Linked DNA regions of Homo sapiens. The protein of the gene in region 1 interacts with the protein of each later gene in a biochemical or structural test. Each region holds a gene or a part of one and is shown on either strand. Other genes may lie near its edges.

Region 1 (4,108 bases):
TGACCAGCTGCAGGCCACACGGCAGAGGAGACTGGCCGTAGTCCTGGTCGCCCAAGTGCCATCGATTGGGGCTGCCACCACCAGCCCAGTGCCGCACCAGCACTGGCCACCATTCCTGGTTCCCCACAGCAAGCCTATATGACAGGAGATGGTGTCTCCATTTTACAGAAAAGGAAGCGGACGCCAGGGAGGGTAAGGGCTTGGTTCAAGGGTAGGCAAACAGTGCTGGTGACAACAGCAAGTAGGAACGCAGGCCCTGGCGAAGCCCTTCCTGTGAACCAGATGCAGATTGACAGAGCAGTGCCCGAGATCCCCATGTATCCTAGAACCACACGGTTTTCTGTGTGCCCGGAAGCCACACGCCCGAGGACCTGCGGACAGGTGCAAAGGGGACGACCTCGGGAACGGCGATTCTTGAGGTGCCCTTTGGACCTCGAATGACAGTGTTTGCTGCTCGTCCTCAGGCCAGAGCACTTTAAATAAAAACAACCCACACATTCTTGTGTTTGTATAAAAGATATTTACTTCAATTATCACACCTAGGGTGCTAGTGAATAATAATACATGGTGTGAGTCTCATACAGTGATATTGCTTCTCCGTATTATATAGGGACCGTTGTACAGTGCTGAGAACAAACATCGTATGGCTAACCAAAGACAGAGGGACAACACCAAGGGGCCGACGGGTGCCTCCCCCACCCCCACGCCAGCCAGGTCAACTTTGACTCTTAATGTAGAAAAACAAATAGCAAGAAATAAAATGTTACCAGAGAGATGTCACACAGCAACACACCAGAGGCATCTCAAAGCGATTTGTACAAAAAAAAAAAAAAAAGACGACTTTTTTTTTTTCCTTTTTTCTTTTTTGGTCAATTGGGTCTCTGTGAGGATTGGAGAAAAAAATCTGTGATTGTGAGGATGAACAAACAAGCTCTAGAAAGATCTAAGACTTGGTGCGTTACAGAAAATATAAAATACTGCTAAAATGTAAGACGTGACAAAACGCTAGAGTGGGGGTGGGGTGGGGGGAGCTGAGCTTATAGAGAGTTTTCCGGAAGATTCCGCCACCCTGTGAGTGCGTCTTGTGCTGTTAGTAGTCTGGACAGGAGCGTGGTGCTACCCGCTCTCAAGGCAAGCAGCAAAGAGTTATTGCACAAACGCAAAGAACTAGGTCTCTTATTCAATGCAAAGGGATGTGGGGAAAACCACCTTCTTTTTACCCCCACTTTTATTTTATAACAAGCTATTCTCCAATGTTTTAAGAATTTTGGGTGAATTCTCACATCTCCAGAATACACGGGATTTTTTTTTTCCAAGAGGTCTCAGATGGGGGTACGTGAGATGCCCGTTTTCTCAAGGGAAGAGGCAGAAGATGGTTTGAGAGAGAGAAATGCATAGACTAATTAGAGAAAAATGAAAAAAAAAAAGGCTTCTGGGGAGATGGGGACCATTGTTTCGGTGGAGGGTTTCTTTCAAAGAGAGAACAAAATCAGGGCCCCCGGCAATCTTGGAGAAGGGGAGGTGATGATATGGAAAGAGATGCTCTTCCCAGCCTACCTTGGGGTGAGCAGGGCCCTTGCCTTGGCCTGGGGTAAGTTTCCTTCTGCTGGGCCCATGGGATCAAGGCAGGGCGCCTCACCTTCACACCTGATTGGCAACAACTGGGTGTCCTGCTGGCTGAGCTTGGGGCCACAGCAAGCAATCTCCACACCCAACCTTCCTCCACGTTGAACCACCTATAGGGGAAAGGGGCCCTCTGCCTATGATCTCCTAGGTGAGCCCTCAAGCCACAGCCTGGTACTACAAAACACTGTTGCTTTGAAAGATGGTTTTGACCAACTTTGTACGCAAGAAAAACAACAACAAAAAACCAACCAAAACGTATCAACCCATGCGGGCCTTGCAAGAAATCACTCTCTCGCTTGGAGGTAAAGTCTTGGCCAGGCCACCGCGCCCTCTCTGACCACGGCTCGCCGAAACTTCATGAACCCAGAAGTCTTACCAGAGGCTCTAGGAGGCTTTGGGGAACTGAACTTGGCTTTGCTAAGATTCCTCTGAAGCTCCTCAAGCGAGCATTCTTCAACTCAGCAACTCCCTCACACGTTGGTAAATTTTTTTGTTCATAAACACTCTCATTTAAAAAGTTAGACACATAGAGACCACCAGTTTTTGAGTGGCTACTCTGGAGACAGGTGTTTGATTTTGCTGGGGAAACCCCCTCTGCCCCCCAGTCAATCCCCCAGACGCCTTGGTTCTCTGGGGGAGTAGGGGAGGAGAGGAAGGCAGAGGATAGTAACCACTAGAGTGACAGCAAAAAGCATTTATGACAACAAAACACAAAATAACAATACACTCCTGATAAGTACTTAAATGATTAACCTAATAATAAATAGAAGAGGATAGAAATAATTTTTTTTTTCTCAAGGAAACATCCTTTTATAATCACCCTCACGCACGCCGGCAGGTCAGTAGCAGTCAGTCCATTTCAACAAGACAAGATTAAGTGCTGGAAGGGATGGCTGTGGCCTCAGACACTGGGGAAGGGTCTCAGCTTCTGAATCACGGATACTCCCTATCCTGCCTCGTCAGGCCAGCGGCTCCGGCCAGAGCCCGCGGGCCCTGCACGCCCAGCACAGTGGTCACCAAGAGGCAGGCTGGGAGACTGGAGGGAGTCGGGGAGGCCTGTTTTCCCTTCGGTTCATGAACAAACGGAACTACAGTGAACAAACTCATTCATAACCTGAATCGTCCTGGTCTAAAGCTTACTTTGAGTTCATTTGGTGTGCAATACGTTATTTTTTTAAAATGAAGAAAAATGATTTCAATTGCACAGAGCTTTTACACATAGTCATCTATTTAAGTGCTTTCCGTTTAAAGCAAAGTACAAAAAAAATAATAAAATAATAAAAAAGAAGAAGGAAAAGGGGGGAAAAAAGAATTATAAAACAAAAGCAGCTCCGTGCCACTTCAATGTGTCTTGCTGAATGGTCTCTTGTTTCACCAGCAGAAGTCCCAATGCTTCCGTACACACTGTGCTTCTGATTAATTTCCATAGGGATGTAGCCGTGACATTGGGATATAAGGCACCTTTTCTTTCTGATTACAGAAAGCTTGATACATAGCATATAGCATATTTTGTGGTAGAAATTAAAGCGTAAACACTACAGAAATTACAGTAACGTAGACTAATGCTTTCTTAACATTATCGGGTAAACTAAAAGGATTCATGAAAAGCAACTCAAAGGCATCTTAAGAGTTTAAGAACGGGGGCATGGGGGAAGTGCACATTTATGCATAGCCAAATGTCTTTCTCTCGCCAGCCTTTTTTTTTTGTCTTTTTTTTTTTTTGGGATTTTTCGCCTACAATGCCCAACTTTTAAAGTTAGCATTTTGGAGGAGACTAGGCGCTTTGGAAATGTCTTGTTAAAGCTAAATGTCACTTCATCCAAAAATGAAAACTCGAGATGATGCCACGGATGGCATGGACACGGTTATCTTTGGAGGGAAGGTGGTGGTGGGAGAGGCCTGGGCAGGAGGAGGCAGTTTTTGGAAGTCGGGCAGACAGGCGGAAATTGCATTTCCTTCTATTCCCCTGACCAGGGTGGTGAGGAGCACAGGCCGCCGGGGCCTCTGGGATTGGGAAGACTGGGCTGGGGGGCCGGGAGTAGGGCTGGGGCTTGTTTTACGCTCTGCCCCCCACACCCCCTCCTCTTCCGTCCTGATTAAGCCCAAGGGTTGGTGGACTTAACTTTCAGCCCATCTCTAAGGGTTTCACAGACTGGATCTTTCTAAACTTTATTGGGTACCTGCTTCCCCTTTTCCCTGGTAGTTTTCATCTACAAAAAGTCAAAACCTGATCGAAATAGAAATAAGATCATCAAATTGGACCATTCTCTTAGCGTTCGAGTGTGCCGGCCAGACTGGCATTCAGTACACGCTGAGATCCAACCACATCACACTGGCCTCAGGTCACCACCTCGCCACTCAGGGCACAAGCCCTGCCCTTGTGGTCACAAAGGCTTCCCTAATGTCGTCGATGCCCAGGTGAAACCACAGAAGCACTGAGGGCTTTCTAAATGTGAGCTTTGGCTGGTCAATGCCCAAGCAC
Region 2 (3,500 bases), on another chromosome or scaffold:
ATAAAAACTCTTAAAAAACTGGGTATAGAAGAACATATCTCAACATAATAAAAGCCATATACTACAGACCCATGGTCAGTATACAGAATGGGGAAAAACTGATTTCCTTTAAGAGCTTGAACACACCAAGAATGCCCACTTTCACCACTGTTATTCAATATAGTACTGGAAGTCCTAGCAAGAGCAAGCAAAGAAGTGAAATTCTTCTTGTTTGTAGACGATATGATCTTTTTTTTTTTTTTTTTTTTTGAGACGGAGTTTTGCTCTTGTTGCCCAGGCTGGAGTGCAATGGTGTGATCTTGGCTCACCACAACCTCCACCGCCCAGGTTCAAGCAATTCTCCCTCCTCAGCCTCCCAAGTAGCTGGGATTACAGGCATGCGCCATCATGCCTGGCTAATTTTTTTTGTACTTTTAGTAGAGACGAGGTTTCTCCATGTTGGTCAGGTGATCCGCCCACCTCGGCCTCCTAAAGTGCTGGTATTACAGGCATGAGCCACCACACCTGGTGACAATATGATCTTATATTTGGGAAAACCTAAAGACTCCACCAAAAAACGACTAGAACTGATAATTCACAAAAGTTGCAGGATACAAAAATCAACATACAAAAATCAGTAGCCCTGCTATATGCCCACAGTGAACAATCTGAAAAAGAAATCAAGAAAGTAATCCCATTCACAACAGCTACAAATAAAATTAAATATCTAGGAATTAACCAAATTAAGTGAAAGATCTCTAAAATAAAAACTACTGAACGGGTATGGTGGCTCACGCCTGTAATCCCCGCATTTTGGGAGGCCAAGGCAGGCGGATCACGAGGTCAGGAGTTCAAGACTAGTCTGGCCAACATAGTGAAACCCCGTCTCTACTAAAAATACAAAAAATTAGCCAGCTGTGGTGGTATGCGCCTGTAATCCCAGGTACTCAGGAAGCTGAGGCAGGAGAATGGCGCAAACCCGGGAGGCACAGGTTGCAGTGAGCTGAGATTGCACCATTGAACTCCAGCCCAGGCAACAGTGCGAGACTCCATCTCAAAAAAAAAAAAAAAAAAAAAAAACAACTATCATTGGTGAAAGAAATTGAAGACAACACACCAAAAAAATGGAAAGATAATTCATATTCATGGATTGGAAGAATCAATATTGTTAAAATGTCCATACAACCTAAAGCAATCTATAGATTCAATGTAATCTCTATCAATATACCAATGACATTCGTCATGGAAATAGGAAAAACAATCCTAAAATTTGTGTAGAACCACAAAGACCCAGAATAGCCAAAGCTATCCTAAGAAAAAAGAACAAAAGGGAGGAATCACATTACCCGACTTCATACAACAAAGCTATAATAACCAAAACAGCATGATATTGGCATAAAAACAGACACACAGACCAATGGAACAGAATAGAGAACCCAGAAAAAAATCCATACATCTACAGCAAACTCATTTTCAACAATGGTGCCAATAACATACAATGAGGAAAAGACAGTTTCTTCAATAAATGGTGCTGTGCCTTAAGCAGAGGTTAGGTTTGCTGTACAGACTTAAGTTGATGCCTTCTGCATTGACAGTCTCTAGAGATTTAGTCTTTCTAGTCTTTCTTCTCTTCCTGGTGCAGAGAGGGAGACACCCTGTCAAAGAGATACTCCTTTACAAACGTACACTTCCCTTAAAAAAGGGCAACTTTTCAGAACTACTCCTGTATCTGCAGTTTCTCAGGATAACCAGCTCACAACAATCAACATGCCAAAAAGGCATATTTTTGAAACCACCTTTGCAAAAATTACAACAGTGAGTAAAACGTGATATAGCTGACTCCATCTTTGCTTTTTTTTTGAGACACAGTTTTTGCTCTTGTTGCCCAGGCTGGAGTGCAAAGGTGCAATCTCAGCTTACTGCAACCTCCACCTCCTGGGTTCAAGCAATTCTCCTGCCTCAGCCTGCAGAGTAGCTGGAATTACAGGCATGCACCACCACGCCCGGATAATTTTGTATTTTTAGTAGAGACAGGGTTTCCCCATGTTGGTCAGGCTGGTCTCAAACTCCCAACCTCAGGTGATCCGCCTGCCTCCGCCTCCCAAAGTGCTGGGATTACAGACATGAGCCACTGCGCCTGGCCCTATCTTTGCTTTTAATCTCACAAGCTCTTTGCTCATTCCTGAGTGTTGGCAATGCTAACTATGGGAGAAATTCAGTTTAAAGTTTAGCTTTAAAACAAAGATGATTAACAGTCCTTTCCCAAAATTAACCCACTCCTTGCTCAGAGACTAAAAGCATCTTTGTAAAATTACACGAGGTTAGAATTATTGTTTAGGAGTTATGTAGCCAAAAGTAACAAGAATTTTGCAACCTCCACAATTGCTCCTATAGATAACATCACTATTGTAAAACGTAAAACTGGTGGTTGGGGTATCTTTCAGACCTTGCATTTTGATGGACCAACTGGTGCCACTTGGACCAGGAGCCCATATGAAGAAACTGACTCAACTGGTTCTGTGACCACTACTTAGGAACTGAGTCAGGGCAAGAAGACAGTTTCAACTCTCTACAATTTTATCCAAGACCCAACCAATCAGCATTCCCCATTCCTTAGCCCACTGCCTACCAAACTATCCTTGAAAAACCCTAGCCCCCGAATTCTCAGGGAGGCAGATTTGAGAATTATCTACTGTCTTCCTCACTTGGTTGGCCCTGTGACAATTAAACTCTTTCTTTGTTGCAAACAAAATAAATAAGTGGTGCTGGGAAAATTGGATATCCATATGCAGAAGAATGAAACTAGACCCATATCTCTCATCATATACAAAAATCAAATCAAAATGGATTAAAGACTTAAGTTGAAGACTTCAAACTATGAAACTACTAAAAGAAAACAGTGGAAAACCTCTCCAGAACATTGGACTGGGTAGAGTTCTAGAGTAATACCCCACAAGCACAGGCAACCAATGCAAAAATGGACAAATGGGATCACATCAAGTTAAGATGCTTCTGCAGAGCAAAGGAAACAACACAGTGAAGAGAAAACCCACAGAATGAGAGAAAATATTTGCAAACTATCCATCTGATAAGAGATTAATATCCAGAATATATAAGAAGCTCAAACAACTCTATATGAAAAAAATCTAATAATCCAATTTAAAAATGGGCGAAAGATCTGAGTAGGTATTTCTCAAAAGAAGACATACAAATGGCAGACAGCATAAGAAAAGGTGCCAACATCACTGAGCATCAGAAAAATGCAAATGAAAACTACAATGAGGGCCGGGCCCGTTGGCTCATGTCTGTAATCCCAGCACTTTGGGAGGCTGAGGCAGGCGGATCACGTGGTCAGGAGTTCGAGACCAGCCTGGCCAACAAGGTGAAACCACGTCTCTACTAAAAATACAAAAATTAGCCGGGTGTGGTGATGCAGTGTGCACCTGTAATCCCAGCTACTCAGGAGGCTGAGGCAGGAGAATTGCTTGAACCCAGGAGGCGGAGGTTGCAGTAAACCGAGA

What was found. Proteins that work in one complex are often made in the same cells at the same time.
Region 2: the proteins of CUX1 (region 1) and CDK7 form a complex in vitro, tested with the Homo sapiens proteins (one study listed by BioGRID).

Annotation. Positions count from the first base shown.
Region 1 is NC_000007.14:102,254,626-102,258,733, reverse strand, and holds the end of CUX1 (Homeobox protein cut-like 1), read right to left. Parts: 3' UTR 501-4,108; downstream 1-500. UniProt on the Homo sapiens protein: May be involved in intra-Golgi retrograde transport.
Region 2 is NC_000005.10:69,241,386-69,244,885, reverse strand, and holds part of CDK7 (cyclin-dependent kinase 7), read right to left. Parts: intron 1-3,500. UniProt on the Homo sapiens protein: Serine/threonine kinase involved in cell cycle control and in RNA polymerase II-mediated RNA transcription. Cyclin-dependent kinases (CDKs) are activated by the binding to a cyclin and mediate the progression through the cell cycle.